Regions from separate parts of the Homo sapiens genome. Here region 1 is linked to region 2. Evidence: fine-mapped expression QTL. Tissue or cell type: whole blood. Region 2 holds a variant in brackets; the other region holds the start of a gene. All regions are shown on one strand. Distances are from middle to middle.

Region 1 (8,096 bases), 140 kb after region 2:
GGATCTGGAGACAGTCAGACCTGGGGTCTAGCCCAGCTCTGTCGCTTATTTGCTGTATAACCTAGCCCACCTATCTAACCTCCTGAGCCTTAGTTTCCTTATCTGTACAATACACCTTATCATGCATATGAAAGCCAGTCCTGTGGTTCAGACATTGATGCCTCCTGGCCTAGATTCCAGGGACAGGTCCTTTCTACTTACCTTACCGGATGTACCTAAAGCACATACCCAAGCATGGCTCAGACAGCCACCAGCTGGGAGGGGATCAAGCCTTCCTTAGAGATGGCTATATCCACTCTCCCTTCACTCTGCAGAAAAAAATGTGGCTTCTACAAGGTTACAGAGTGAGGAATGAGCTAAGAACCAGGGCCTCCTGGCTTCTAAAAGGGTTCAGTTTCTACCACACTGCACTGAGGGTCAAAACTCTAAGTCAGGGGACAGGGTAGCTGGCAAGTCAGTTCCAGCAGGAACTGGTCACGGCTTTGACCATTATCTATTTTGGTAAATAGACCCTGGTATTCTTGCTGGAGTTCATAGGCCATAAAGTCCAGTTGGGAACCCCCAGGAACTTCTTAGGCAAGACCTCACCAAATACACTGGACTCAGAACATTCCCTGCTCATGAACCTTCCATAACTCTCCACTGCCTACAGAAGAAATTCCAACACCCTCACCTACCCCACCCCTGACTGGCATCCAGGCCCCACTCCATCTGCTCTCATCTAATTCCAAAGACCTTATCCTCCAACCAAGCTGGCTGCTCTGCTGGCCCCTGCACACACCATGGTGCCCCGAAACTGTTATTTCCATTCCCTGAAGCCTTTGCATGGAATATAATCCAACTCTCACACATTTACTGAGCACCTACTAAGTTCCAGACACTGTGGTGGGCAAATGATGTCTAGGTATTCGGGAAAGTTGCTAGTATAACCTGAAAAAACAAAAGAGAAGATACATTTCCTGCTCTCATGGGGCTCAAAAGATCACTCCCCTTTCCGTTTCTACTTCATCCTTCAGAACTCAAGTTCAAATTTCCCATCCTCTGGGGTCTCCAATACTCCAGAAAGGCTTTCCTGACCCTACTGGCCCTCTGATCCCCCAACGACACATAGCACCACTCACCAGCCCTACATTCCAACTGCCTGCACTGTCCCCTTGACTGATTTTGTGTTAAGTTAGGACTTCCCACACACCTAGCCTAAAACTAGACACACAGTGGGTACCCCCAAAAATGCTGGAAGTTATAGGATTACAACATGCCTAAGCTCGATGCCCTTAGTGTCTATTTCAAAACCCTCATTTTGTAGATGAGGAAACAGAGGACCCGTGAGGAGAAGCAAAAGTCCAAATTCACAATGAGAGTTAGACACAGAACCAAAACAAGATCCCCAGTGTTGTCTCTCCCAGACCAAAGTCCTTCCTTTACAATTGGCCACATCAAACGAATCAAAGTCAAGGCACTCCCTACTCCCCAACTCTTGCTCCAAATTCTCAGAGCTTGGGGTGCATGGAATCTATGGACACCATGCCTCAGTCTTTCTTCTTGAGGAACAACTAAGAACCTGAATGGCTGGACTCACATAGGTCATCAGTCTGGCTCTCTGTCCACTCTCTCAGCTGCTGCTTAGCTCCCCGGATCCAAATGAGATGCTAATCGGGATCAGCCAGTCCCCCAGCAGTTGCCCTTGGGCCTCCAGGAATCCACCTTCCTTCTCCTGCCAACTATCCCACATGGCAAGATCACCTCACAGCATGTGAGACCAGACACAGCAAAATCCTGAGACTGACAGACTCAGGCCGCTGAACTCCAAAAAGAGTCAAAATAACAGTACTGTAAAAATGTTGGGAAACTATCCTTCACTATATAAATAAAGAAATTGGTCAGACGCGGTGGCTCACGCCTGTAATCCCAGTACTTTGGGAGGCCAAGGCGGGTGGATCAGGAGGTCAAGAGATCGAGACCATCCTGACCAACAACTAAAAATACAAAAATTAGCTGGGTGTGGTGGCCCGCACCTGTAGTCCCAGCTACTTGGGAGGCTAAGGCAGGAGAATAGCTTGAACCCGGGAGGCGGAGGTTGCAGTGGGCCGAGATTGCGCCACTGCACTCCAGCTTGGCGACAGAGCAAGACTCCATCTCAGAAATAAATAAATAAATAAATAAATAAATAAATAAATAAATAAATAAATAAATTGAGGTCAAGCTGGCATTAGAACCGAGTCAGGTTGTTCCTGACTCTGGCACCTTTGGTGGCGGGGGGTAGGGGGGAGCGGTTTGGCAACTTCTCTAAACCATCTGGCGGTTGCCCTTAAAACACCCCATAATTTCCGTTTCCTGGAGATCTCAGGAAAGAGGAATTGGACCAGGCAGAATATGAGAAACATAAGGGGACCATGCTATAATATTAGATGTTTAGTCCAATATCCCCATTGTACAGATGGATAAAATGATGCCCAGAGAGGGGAAGCGGATCTATGGTACGAGATTATACAACTCCGAGGTGATGAGGTCTCTAGGGCAACACCCTGCCCCTGTAACCAGATGATGTCTGAGTCCCTCCAAGACTTAGGCTCTAAGGATCTAAACCTATAAGTACCTCCCACCCTCCTAAGATACGAAGTTAGGACAATCTTCCCGCCTCTCCCTTCCTCAAACCCAGATCTCATAATCACCCTTGTTGGACGGACTCTTGCTGTAGCAATGAACCACCAGCGCTGCGGCCAGGGCGCACATGCCCAGTCCGGCCCTGCTGGGGACCCCGTTCCAGCTGTCCTGTCCTGGGAGTGTTTCTTCGGGACCAGGAAGGCGTCCCCAAGTGGCAGCCGCGAGGCATTTGGTATCGAAGCGTCCTCCCTGGCGCCCCCCGGTGGCTGCCCCACGTCCGGAGAACAAGGCCGGCGATGTTCCAGGGCGCCCCCCGGTGGCTACCCTCAGCCACTGCGGCTCCCCGAGACTCCCAGTAGTCACATTCCGGCCGGAAGCACCTCCATGGCCCCGGAGCGTTGGGGACCTGAGCAGCCGGAGGAGTAGCCGTGGCGCCAGTGCTTTTCTCCTCAACACCAGGGACCCCAGCATCTTGACAGCTGCTTCGATAACCCCGTGGTGCCGGCCCCTGTGCTGACCACGTCCAACATGGCTGCCGCGGCGCGTTCGAAGACGCCGCGAACAGGGTGGAGTTGCGCACTACCTCACGGGAGAGGTAGTCCACAGCCCTAAGCCTTTCCCCAGCTGGAGAATAAATAAACTACGTTTCCCAGAAGGCTGTGGGATTGCGTCACAATGACTGCGGGATTATAGAAGCCCGGGGCATATTGGGAAATAGAGTTCGGGTGAAGGGGCGTGGCGATTAGAGTTAAAGATTAGAATCCCAAGACTTCTTTCCTAGTTTAGTTGAAGCACACGACACACTTTTTTTTTTTTTTTTTTTTTGAGACGGAGTCTCGCTCTGTCTCACAGGCCGGAGTGCCGTGGCGCGATCTCGGCTCACTGCAACCTTCGTCTCCTGTGTTCAAGCAATTCTCCTACCTCAGTCTCCCGAGTAGCTGGGATTACAGGCGCCCGCCACCATGCCCAGCTAATTTTTGTATTTTTAGTGGAAACGGGGTTTCACCACGTTGGCCAGGCTGGTCTCTAACTCCTGACCTCAGGCGATCCGCCCGCCTCGGCCTCCCAAAATGCTGGGGTTACAAGCGTGAGCCACCGCGCCCGGCCCACAATTTTTGACTGGTGTAAATTACCCAAGAATCTTCAGCAGAGGCATATTATGAAACTTATGCTTATTTAGTTTAGCCTATCTCTTTTTTCAGCCTGGGCGGCCTTTCAAAAAGATGTTTAGGGTAACTACTGCACCTGAGATAGGAATACATTTTATTTGAAGAGTTGACTTCCGGTCTTTTTTTTTTTTTTTTTTTTGAGACAGAATCTCACTCTGCCGCCCAAACTGGAGTGCAGTGGCGCCATCTCGGCTCACTGCAACCTCCGTCTCCCTGGTCCAAGCGATTCTCCCACCTCAGCCTACCGAGTAGCTGGGATTACAGGCACGCACCACCACGCTTGGCTAATTTTTGTATTTTTAGTAGTAGAGACGGGGTTTCACCATGTTGGCCAGGCTGGTCTCCAACTCCTGACCTCAAGCGACCCACCTGCCTCAGCCTCCCTAAGTACTGGGATTACTGGCGTGAGCCACTGCGCCTGGCCCTGATTGTGTTATTTTTAAAGGGCTTTCAAGTGGGTCATCTCATCTGATCCTCATGGCAGCTGTGTGTGAGAAGCTGGGCAAGAACTGTTATTCCCGTCTACAGTGAAGGGAATTGAGGCTCAAAGGTGAAAAGATTTGCCAGTAAATCACCTGGAGTAAAGTAATGCTCAGGTCTTCTGATTTTGAGCATATAGTTTCCATTAACACCTGCACTCCCATCCCGCCCCCTCTTTTCCAAACTGAACCCATAGGTAGGCAAAGGAGGAAGTTCTTCTTTGTGCCAGTTCTGTTTCTTCCAAGTCTTGTACGTCTGCTCAGACTTCACATGATCAGAGTCTTCCCTGACCATTCTGGTTAAAATAGTAATCCTACGCACCCCATCCTAATTTTCCTTCACAGCATTTATCACCATCTGACATACTACATTTTTATTGTCTTTCTCCACTACAGCATGAGCCCCATGAGACAAGGACTTTGTTTTTTCACTTTTATATCACTAGCACTCAGAACAATGTCTGGAACAAAAGAGGCACTCAGTTTTTTTATTTTTATGTATTTATTTATTTATTGAAGCAGAGTCTTGCTCTGTCGCCCAGGCTGCAGTGCAGTGGCACGATCTCAGCTCACTGCAAGCTCAGCCTCCTGTGTTCACGCCATTCTTCTGCCTCAGCCTCCCGAGTAGCTGGGACTACAGGCTCCCGCCACCATGCTCGGCTAATTTTTTTGTATTTTTAGTAGAGACGGGGTTTCACTGTATTAGTCAGGATGGTCTCGATCTCCTGACCTCGTGATCCACCTGCCTCGGCCTCCTAAAGTGCTGGGATTACAGGTGTGAGCCACCGCGCCCGGCCTGAGGCACTCAAATATTTTTTTCAGTGAATGGATTACTCTCACCTTATTAGTGTTGGAGAGTACTTGAGCTTTGGCATTCAGGCAGACGTGGATTTTAATTTTGACTCTTGCATTTATATGGGTGACCTTGGACAAACTCCCTTTACCTCTCTGGTAGTTAATTACTCATTGTTGAAGATATCAATTCCTGCCTTCAAGATGATTGCTTGTATTAAATAAGATAATATGTAGAAAGCCCCTAACACTGTCCCTGGCTCACAGTAGGTCTTCAAGAAATGGTAGCTATCATTGTATATTCTCTGCTCTGTGTATTCTACACTTCCTCCAGGCAAAGATGGAACTTCTCATTTCCACATCCGTTAGTAAGACAGGAATGAATGAGCGACTTTTTTGGTTTTTTTTGAGACAGGGTCACGCTCTGTTACACAGGCTGGAGTACAGTTGTTACTGCAACCTGAAACCTCCTGGGCTCAAGGGATCATCCCACCACCTCAGCCTCCTGAGTAGCTGGGACCACAGCTGGCACCACTACACCTAGCTAATTTTTTGTTATTATTATTATTATTATTATTTGGGTAGAGACTAGGTCTCGCTATGATGCCCAAGCTGGTCTGAACTCCTGGGCTCAAGCAGTCCTCCTGCCTCAGCCTCCTAAAGTGCTGGGATTACAGGCGTGAGCCACTGCGCCTGGCTTTAATAACTTTTTTTTTTTTTTGAGATGGAGTTTTGCTCTTGTTGCCCAGGCTGGAGTGCAATGGCGCGATCTTGACTCACCGCAACCTCCGCCTCCCAGGTTCAAGCGCTTTTCTTGCCTCAGCCTCCCGAGTAGCTAGGATTACAGGCATGTGTCACCACACCTGGCTAATTTTTTTTGTATTTTTAGTAGAGACGGGGTTTTACATGTTGGTCAGGCTGGTCTCAAACTCCCAACCTCAGATGATCCACCTGCCTTGGCCTCCCAGAGTGCTGGGATTACAGGCGTGAGCCACCGTGCCCAGCCTTGAATAACTATTTTTAAATCATTTTTAAAGCACTCAATAATGAAAGCATTTTGACCTTTCTGTTTTGAGAGATTTTCAGCACATATTATTTTGTTAACCACCCCATTCACTATAGCAACTTCACCTTCCCTGTATTCTTGAAACATTTCTGTCTCCCAACTTAGGGTGGTCACAGCAGGAAGAGCAGTCTCCGAAAGCTCCCATTACCAGATGCAGAGTTCAAACCCTCTCACTGCAGACACATCCCAGGGCCCTTCAGTTTACTTAGCAATGCATAATTTTCAAAGCACTTCCCCATTGATTTTCTTATTTTATTTTCACAGATACCATCTGCGAGGGGTTCAAGGAAGGGTTTAATTACTATCAGTATTTGGTAGGGATACTGAAAAGCTTAAATTATCAATCTCTGAGTGGGGGATGTAGTGAGGAAGTATGGAAACACCCATTAGGGTCGTGTGTGCTTGCTCACGTGCCTGTAATCCCAACACTTGGGGCAGGAGTTTGAGACCAGCCTGGGCAACATGGTGAGATCACAGTCTCTGCAAAAAATAAAAAATTAGCCAGGCATGGGGGTGTACACCTGTAGTTCTAGCTACTCAGGAGGCTGTGGCAGGAGGATCCCCACACTACTGCACTTCAGTCTAGGCAACAGAGTGAGACCCTGTCTCCAAAAAAAAGAAAAATAAACTAAAATTAAAACAAACAAAAAAACCCCACCCATTAGAATCAGCTGGGACTCAGAGTGAATTCTGTATGGTCAATAACCAATCCAGGGCCAGGCACAGTGGCTAATGCCTATAATCCCAGCACTTTGGGAGGCCGAGTTGGAAGGATCATTTGAGGTCAGGAGTTCGAGACCAGCCTGGCTAACATGGTGAAACCCCGTCTCTACTAAAGATCCAAAAAATTAGCTGGGCGTGGTGGCACACGCCTGTAATCCCAGCTACTCAGGAGGCTGAGGCAGGAGAATTACTTGAACCCAGGAGGCGGAGGTTGCAGTGAGCCAAGATCGCGCCATTGCACTCCAGCCTGGGCGACGGGGCGACTCCGTCTCAAAAAACAAACAAACACACAAAAAACTCTTAGGTCACATTTTAACAGATTTTCAACGCAGGATGGCTTCCTTTTGGTCTGCTCAGAAAGCAAAAATTTATATCAGGTTCCAATGACCCCACCTTGGCCCTAAGCTTCTAACTGTTGGGTTGGGAGAGAGAGAACTCCAGTTTTAGTTTGTAGGAAGGTGACTGGGGGATATCTGAATGGGGTTTAGGAGGAGACAGAAAGTGAAGAATCAATGCAGTTGCTGTGGTCAGCTGCCTCTGGCATGGAGTTGGAGGCCATTTGGTGCTACACATTCTATAGGTTTCTGAGAAAAACTTTTCCAGAAAAAGAAAACAAAACAACAACACACACACACATTTTTAAACAAATAAGTAAATAGATAGTAGCTGGGCTTTTCACTGTTGGAGAAAGAAGTTATAAATAGGGAAAAAAAGAAAGCTAAAATGAACCTTGTGGTATTGAATTGGAATCAGATGTATCAGCATAAACTCATGGCTTTAATTTTATTTTTACTTTATTTATTTTTGAGACGGAGTCTTGCTCTGTCATCCAGGCTGGAATGCAGTGGCGCGATCTTGGTCACTGCAGCCTCCGTCTCCCAGGTTCAAGTGATTCTCCTGCCTCAGCCTCCTGAGTAGCTGGGATTACAGCAATGTACCACCGCCCAGCTAACTTTTGTATTTTTAGTAGAGACAGGGTTTCGCCATGTTGGCCAGACTGGTCTCGAACCAGCCTGATTGGTCTCAATTGGTTATTGACCATATGGTTTTGCCACGTTGGCCAGGCTGGTCACAAACTCCTGACCTCAAATGATCTGCCTGTCTCAGCCTCCCAAAGTGCTAGGATTACAGGTTAGAGCCACCATGCCCAGCTGTAAAACTCATGGTTTTTAAAAATAGATACAGACAGATCAATACAGAAATATAAATATGTAAGTATGTATGGGTTCGTGTATTACATATATTACCTAGCCTCTGGGAGGG
Region 2 (8,094 bases):
CTTCTCAGGGTGCAGTGGTGCCCGGATGTCCAGTCTGCGAGTCTTGCTGTCCTTGTCGATGATCTCCAGACGCAGCTTGGGGAGGCGCTTCTCAGCCTGGGGTGAGGGCAGTTCTGGGCTTTTGAGTAGCTGCTTGTCTGAGTCCTCCACCGTGATGCGCAAAGTACAGCCCCCTGGCAGCAGGTCCTGCTCATAGGCTGCTGCCAGCTGGTTCACCACACGGCGTTCTACCTGTCGGTGGGGAGGTGAAGTGGTCACTCCCTCGGCCTGGACCCAGCTTGGAGGTCGGCCTCCATCACTTACTGCTAGGGCAACTCAGAGACCTCCTTTGAGCCTGAGCCTCAGCTTTCTCATTTGCCAATTGGGGCTAATAACAGCTAGCTCGCAGGACTGCGCTCAAGTTTCTGAGGCTCCCAGCCCAGTTCCCTGGTCCTAGTGGGGTTCATACTGGGCTACCCTCCAGCAGGGGTTTTACTTGGTGATCATGTGTTTATGGTTCTGAATGGGCATCCACTCTGGGTGTGAATATCCAGCAACCAAGCTATAGGGAGGCAGGCTGAGAGCTCAGGGACTGGGTCTGGGGGGCCCTGGGGAGGGAGGTGTGGAGGCGCCTCATTTCTCAGGCTCCTGTGCTCACCTCATGTTTGATGGAGCGGGCGCCATAGTGCACATTGTAGCCGTCGACCAGCACATCTGCCACCTCGCGGTCCCAGAGCAGCGTGATGTTGTGCCTTTGCTTGGCCTGAGATGGGTCAGATAGAAGCATGCCTGCATGTGGCCCACTGCTTTCCATCTCTTGCCACTCTGGCCTGAGGCCAGGGCCACTGGCCCCACACCACTGTGCTCCACCTTTTATGTGTGTGGGGGTGCCCCCAGTCCAGTGTTCCAGATTTCCAGTGGCTGGCTATCCCGCCCCCACCCATGGGCAGTTCCCTCTTACTCTCTTGGCCCAGAAGTTTAGTTCCTTGTTGACGAGTTGGATGAGCTCCGAGTGGCAGAAGGGGAGGAAGTAGACGATCTCATTGATCCGTCCCAGAAACTCATCCCTCCGGAAGTGAGCCTGAAGGGCCAGGTTAGGGGTGGGATGAGCTCAGTGACCCAGAGCGGGTTAGGGAAATTACCAGACACCAGGGGAAGACTGGGGAAATTATGGGGCTTCCAGATCTTTAGGATGGCTAAGATCACCCTCCCCCAACCTTAGGCTCCAGCAGGAAGTGCCAAGAAAGACCTCTTACTTTCAGGATAGGGCGAATCACATTCTCCTTGAAGTTCTTTGAGATGGTGATCTTGTCACTTATCTGGACATCCCCTGTGGAGAAGAATCATAAACTGCTTATTCCCCACATTCAGGGAACTTTGGGGGCTGTGCCTGCCCCTTGGCCTGCCCATGGAAAGAGCCCTGGTCCTGTCCATCTGTGTGGTCCTGGTCAAGGTCTAAGGCTCTCTGGGCTTCAGCCTGGTCTCCTCCTCTGACCAGGCACTTTCGGAGGCCTTTCCAGCTCTCAAGTGTATGAAGTCTGCGATTCCTCAGGGTGGGAGTTGTGTGAGGGAGGGAGAGGAGAGGAAACGTCAGGATTAAGACTTGAGTCCTGACTTGGAGGAAGGGGGCTGCAGGGCTCGATCTTGAATGGAAAAGGTGACAGACACAGCTTCCTGCCGGATGTGCTCCTTTTTTTCAGCACTCTCCATGGCCCACCTACGCAGGAAGCTGCCCTGGGTGAACAAGGCTGTGTCCACTGCCATAGAGTTTTCGATCTGCTGTCCCCTTCTTGCACCAAAGCATCTGTGTCTCTTGCATGTGCATCTCCTCAGTCCCCTAAGACACTGAGCAGCTTCTGGCCCCCCACCCTGGTGTAGCTCTGTCCATTCCTGCCTGGAGCCCTCTTATCACCCAACAGACTTGAGGCTTTCTTGAAGTGGGGTCTCTGTCTCTTTTGTCTCAACCCCCACTACTTGGTATGGTGTCTGATATCTGCTCAGTGTCAGCTAGGGACAGAGCTGCCCACTAGAACCTTCACCTGGGCCCAGGGCCCCAATCCCATCCTTCCCCAGGAGATAGGCTGGTGGCTTGGTCACTGGACCAGACTGCTCAGGTCAGCCGCCATACCCAGGTTTTCGGCAATACGGTTACGGCTCATCTCCAAAGCTTCCTGCCTCAGCTGCAGCGCGTGCTGTGCGATCTCGTCGCTGGCCACATTGGAGGTCATGATGAAGATGGCGTCCTTGCAATCAATGGTCTTCCCTTTTCCATCTGTCAGCCGGCCCTGGGAAGGGAAGGAAGGGAGTGTACAGTCAGGGAGCTATGTGCCTGGGCAGGCCTTAGCACTCTCAGTTCTCACCTCCTTCAGGAGGCCTCCCCAGAGCCCTGTGTCTCCCTCCAGCCCCAGCAGCCAGCTGCTTCCTCCTCTGGGTTCTCCGAGCACTAGACTTGCACCTTGGCTGCTGTGCTCACCGCCCTGCGCTGCAACTGCTCTCCCTACTGAGTGCCTCCAGGTGAGGCTGCAGTTGCTCTCTGGCATCTCTTGGGGCACCCAACTATCCCTGGCATGCAGAAGTCAGTCACAGTTAGCCATTCATTTGTGCAACCAACACATTTTTTGGAGGCCCGCTGTGGGCCAGGATCTGTGGTGGGGTACTGGGGTCCCACTGAGCCTACAACATGCTCCCAGTATAGAGAAGCAGTGAGATACAGGAAACAAGCACTGACCATCCAATATGTTACGTATGATAATAAAGGGAAGCCCAGCATGCTGCAGGAATTCAGAGGAGGGTACTTTACATGGCTACTGTCAGGACTAGATGTGGTTATCTGGTGAAAATTCTTAGTAAACCATGCTGTTCAAATGTTCAGAGCTATTATTACTGTAGTAGGTGATATATAATGAAACAGGACAACCTCTTTTATCTTTGGAGCTGCCGCCTGGCCTAACAGGGATAAAAAATGAGATTGCTTCTTTAACCACCTTGGGAAGTTTCCTTGGAATCTTCAGCTCTTTCTAGAAGGGACAAAGGAGGCATCTATACTGGAGAAAGATGCACCAAAGAAGGAGAAAAGGAGCAAACAGTATAGGGCAGAGACAGAAGAATGATAAAAGTACAGTGTTCTGGGACCAATCAGTTGAAGGGTACAGAGCCCCGCTCACTCAGCGAACCTCAAGGGCATGACCGTACAACAGCACTTTATGTCATTTATAACAAAAGCAATGATCAGGGACTCCTTGAGAGCAAGCAATAGAGTGACAATGCCGAACACGGACAGGGACTTCTACTTTCATCACAGATGCTCTGCTTAGTGCTTTTTGTGTACAACCCCACTCCTTCTACTAGGAAAGTGGCTCCTTGACAACAGAGGCTGGGTCTTGTTCATCACTGTGTCCCAGAACAGCGTCCGGTACAGAGTAGGTGTTTGACACCTGCTTGCTGGAGGCTGGAATCTTCACATCCACCCTTGGAGGTAGGTGCAGTTAGGACCCCTACAAAGAAACTGAGGCTCAGAGAGGATCATAACTTGTTCGAGGTTTCACAGCTAGGATACAGTAGAGGCGAGACTTGAACTATCTGACCTCAGAGCCCATGCCCTTCCTCTGCACCAGGCTACAGAGGTCAGACCAATGGTGCTGGATGAATGAGGCCTCGTGCTATTTTCTTTCCTTCGACAGAATTTTCTCAGAATTCTGCCAAATTCAGTTTGATCCTCACTGGAGAGATGCAACTGGGACAGGTGCTAGGGAGGAGATCTACCTGAGATTTCTTTTGGGAAGCAGAGAAAGCACAGCTCCCGCCAAGCCAGAAACCGTGGCTCTGGGGATATACATCACTGACCTCAGCCTGTTGGCTCCTGCCTGAGCCAGGGATGCTGGGCCCTGCCCGAGCTTCAGGGTTAGCCCTTGCTTCTAAAGCCAGTGTAATGGTAAACCCAGTCCTACTCCTTAGGAGCAAAGGAGAAAGGACTGTGCATCAACCGAGCTAGCTTACTGCATGCTGGGTGTAGTTTCCAGCCTTGCTTTCCACTGGACCTTGGCAGAGGCCTTTGAGAAACTGTTAATTCCCAAAGGGTCTATACACAAGGGGCCTGGTAATCCACATCCTGGAGCTGGTCACTCTGCTGTCCCTGCCTTGGGGCAGGAAAAGGGAAGCAAGGGTGCAAGCAGATGTCCTTGAGCTTTTACCAGCAGCTTTTCACTCTTACCCCACTGCTTATGGGTTCTAATCTAACAGATCCACTGAGGGCAGTTCTAGTTTTGGGGACCAGGTGTGTGTGTGTGTGTGTGTGTGTGTGTGTGTGTGTGTGTGTGTGTGTGTGTGTGTGTGTGTGTGTGACATGTCCAAGCATGTGCATATGACTGTGTGTGTGTTCCATACTCACTTTGCAGAGCTCATCCCTAAGGACTGGGTTCACACACTGCTATACTGGCCAGAGCAATAACCTAGCAGCAATTTCATTCTCAGAGATCAAAGCTCTGCTCATAACTGGGCCTGAGGATGGGTCCCAGGTGGGTGAGGGGAGCAGGTGCAGTGCATGACTGACCCAAAGGGTGACTTTCAGTGCTCATGTCTCCTCCTCAGTTTCCTTAGCAATAAAGATGTGTCTCAAACAGGAAGCTGTCCGTGCCTCACCTCCCTCTAACAACCAGAGCGTGCACATCTTGGGTGGGGCTTGAATGCTCACC[C/T]CAGGGTTATGGGGCTGCTTTCCCACTGTCTCACGTATGACTCCTTGGTGGGAGGAGTGGGGGCTGGGCTCTCTGGGGACTAGTCTCTTTCTGGGACTTCTGCCCTGGGGTCACCTGTGAGTGGCCAGCAGTAGACCTGCTTGGTGCTTTGATGAGAGCAATAGGGTTCTTACTTTTCTGGGCCCAGGCTTGGGAGAACTAGACTGGGTAGGGGTGAGGCTGCTTCCCTCACACCTCCAGCCTGGATTAGGTGCCCCTACAACTCCTGGCACTTGCTGCTTGTCCCTAGCGCAGCACCGACCACAGTGGACTGAACTACTTTTTAGCTGCCTGTCTCCGCACTCATTGGTCACGCCAAGGCCAGGGCTGCATCTGTTTTGTCAGTGTCCCCTCTACCCCACACAGCGCCTCATGAATAAATGAATGAGCCACATTCTTTTGGTTGGCTCTTTTTTGTTTTTGAGACAGGGTCTGGCTCTGTTGCCCAGGTTGGAGCGCAGTGGTGCAATCTCTGCTCACTGCAACCTCAGCCTCTGAGGCTCAAGCCATCCTCCCACCTCAGCCTCCTGAGTAGTGAGGACTACAGGCACATGTCACTATGCCCAGCTGATTTTTGTATTTTTTGTAGAGACAAGGTTTTGCCATGTTGCCCAAGCTGGTCTCGAACCCCTGAATTCAAGTGATCTGCCCACCTCGGCCTTCCAAAGTGCTGGGATTACAGGTGTGACCCATCATGCCTGGCCTGGTTTTGCCTCCTACTTCTCTGGCGAGTCTGTCTTGACTTCCCTGATAGGTCCCAAGGCTCTGTGTATAGCCCTCTTTTCTCTGCACATTATACACTCCCTGGGTTACAGACCTCATCCATTCCTGTGGCTTCCGTTAACCTCTCTGGGCTGAAGGATTCCTGAACTGCTATTTTCAGTCAGACCTTTCCTAAACTCCTGACCCATAAAACTGATGAACGGCCCCTTGGCCATCTCCATCTGGATGTCCCTCAGGTATCTCACCTTCAACATTTCCACACCTCAGTGCCTCACCTTCCTCTTCAATCTGCGGCTTCCCACTGTGTTCGCCGCCTTAGCTGATGGCCAACTGGCAGCAGCCAACTGGCCACCCTTGGCTCCTCCTCCTCTCCTCAGTCAACCTTCTAGTAGTTTCTCCAGCCCATGGCCTCCCCAGCTGTAGCTTGGGCTCCCCAGCAGTCTCCTTGTTAATGACCCTCTCCCTTCTCATCCATTCTTTACACAGCTGCCCACGGCATCTTTGTAAAGTGAAAATTTGACTGTTTCTTTCTTGCTTAAAGTCTTTAAAAGGCTCCTTACTCTCTACCAGAGAAATGCAAACTTCTGTGCCTGGCATTTTAACTGGGCCCTGTTTACCTTACCTACCTTGTCTCTAGCACTCTGTCCTTGTTTTCCCTCTGCAATCGAGCAGTACTGACCAGCTGCAGTTCCCTGAGCATGCCAGCCTGTTTCATGCCCTGTACTTTTATACATTAGGTTTCTACTGCCAGCCCCGCCACTCTGTTCACCTAGCACTTACTAACCCTTTGAAGGTTTGCTAACTACTGTTGAATTAAAACTACTGTTGAATTAAATTAGTCAATACAACATTTCCCCTGACTTTGTGGGCTCTGGGAATGGTTCAAGTGAACATGACAAGGGCCCATCCTCAAAGAGCCTAAATCGAGTAAACCTGGATGGCAGCTTTGGTCAATGGAACCAAGAGCATCAGAAACTATAGTAGGCTGGGGCTGGGGGAAGGGGCGACAACAGCTGCAGGAAGGAATTCCTATCAACCCCTAAAAGGCAGTCAGTGGAGTGAAGTGACGGAGGAGGGGGAGACAGGGCTTCCATGTATGGCTGATTGTACTTCAGTCAGCAGTTGCCTTCTGTTTTTTGGGCCAAGAATGCCATCAGAGGTGCCTCTCCAGGGAGACCAGAGATCAAACAGGCCGCGATGCTCACCCTCCCTCAGCGGCATGGTCCCGTCCCTTGCGTGCTTCACTGAGACGGACCTCGCTCTTTTGGCCCTAGCTGCGTGGCAGTCATTCAAGCTGCAGGATCTAGAACTGGGCTGCCTGGGTTTGAATCCTTGATTCTCTCTCCCCAGCTGCATGACCACAGGTAAATGACTTAATCTTACTTTGCTTCAGTTTCCACATCTGTTCAATGGAGGCCGTAATAATAGCTAGCTTTGGAGGGTTGTTGAAAGGGTTAAATTGATACACATAAGCCTCTGAAGACAGCGAATGGCACACAAAATGCAAAATGCCAGCTACTACCATGTCTCCTTTCCACCTGTCTACCAGGCAGAGAGCTCCAAGAGGGCACATTCGGGTCTGGTCATAGCTGTGCACTTGAATCCCATCAAGAGGCTGGAATGGAGTAGAGGCCTCAGTGTACACGTGAGTAACTGAGTATGTGACCTCTGAAGGACTGGTCTCTTCTTCCTCAGCAGAGGTTCAGGGGCAGGGAGCAGCTGAAGGGCTAGGAAGATACAACGGAACGGGCAGGGGCAAGGAGGCTGGGCCAGGTGGGGAAGGCAGTGAGCAGCTGGTAGGAGATCTGGATCTGGATCTTCCTGGCTTGGTACCTGATGTGCTGTTCGGTCTGGAGGAGTCCCCTCCCTGTGGCCTCCTATGACATGGGAAGCAAACCACCTTTTTGTTTTCCTAGGGCTGCAGGAGACTAGGTAGAAAGGTGAGCTGGACTCATGGCCAGGTGCTAGCTAATATAGCCCCTGCATGAGAGAAGAGAGGCCTCATCCCCGGTTCAGTCCTTGGCTCCTCACGCTCTCTTGATGGAGCAGGGCCCCTGAAAAGGTGGAAGTCATCTTCTTCCGTGATCGTAAGCAATCCCTCGCCTGGTTCAAGGTAAACAGTGGTATGGGGGGAGAATTGGGGCTCTGGGATCAGACATATCTGCAGCCCAATCTTGGCTCTTTACACAGCAGCTGTGGCCTTAGGCATGTCTTTTATAACCTCTCTGAACCTCAGTTTCTTCATCTGTAAAAAATGAGCTAATTTCTCCCTTGCCTGTTAGGAATTTTTCTACCTACCTTGTGAGGATTAGTGATAATGGCTGTAACGTCTTTAGTACAGGTCTAGTACACAGAAGGTACTGGATAGAAGTAAGCTCTTCTCTCCATTTAGAACTTACCCCTACGAGCAGGGGAACTGGACAGTCTGTGAGAACCCTCAGATTCTCAGAAGAGAAAGGCTCCATGAATCAGAGTATCAGCATCTCACCATTAGCAGCAACAATATTAGCATTTTAAAGAACTGCAGGAGACAATGTTTGGCACACAGGGAGGAACAAGAGCTGTCTGAGGCAGAAGGATTTTTGGGGCTTCTCTGATTCAGCCTCCTCGTTTGTCACATGAGATCTCTGATGCCTAGAGATGGGCAGTGACTTGCCAAGGC

What was found. PIP is the estimated chance that this variant, and not a neighbour inherited with it, causes the effect.
Region 1: CLPB starts here. The variant in region 2 is fine-mapped to the expression of CLPB in whole blood (TOPMed, PIP 0.97).

What each region holds. Positions count from the first base shown.
Region 1 is chr11:72,431,400-72,439,495 of GRCh38, forward strand. CLPB (ClpB family mitochondrial disaggregase) reads right to left here and starts at 3,132. Exons shown (of 16, transcript NM_001258392.3): 1 at 2,673-3,132. The coding sequence starts at 3,075. RefSeq lists enhancers at 2,754-3,213, 3,277-4,083 and a silencer at 5,495-5,544.
Region 2 is chr11:72,293,385-72,301,478 of GRCh38, forward strand. It overlaps CLPB (ClpB family mitochondrial disaggregase), which reads right to left. Exons shown (of 16, transcript NM_001258392.3): 12 at 2,108-2,264; 13 at 1,236-1,309; 14 at 941-1,060; 15 at 638-742; 16 at 1-231. It overlaps LOC124902708 (a long non-coding RNA gene), which reads left to right and starts at 6,579. Exons shown (of 3, transcript XR_007062766.1): 1 at 6,579-6,796; 2 at 6,982-7,077; 3 at 7,349-8,094. RefSeq lists an enhancer at 7,814-8,094. The variant C/T (reference allele first, on the strand shown) is at 4,671.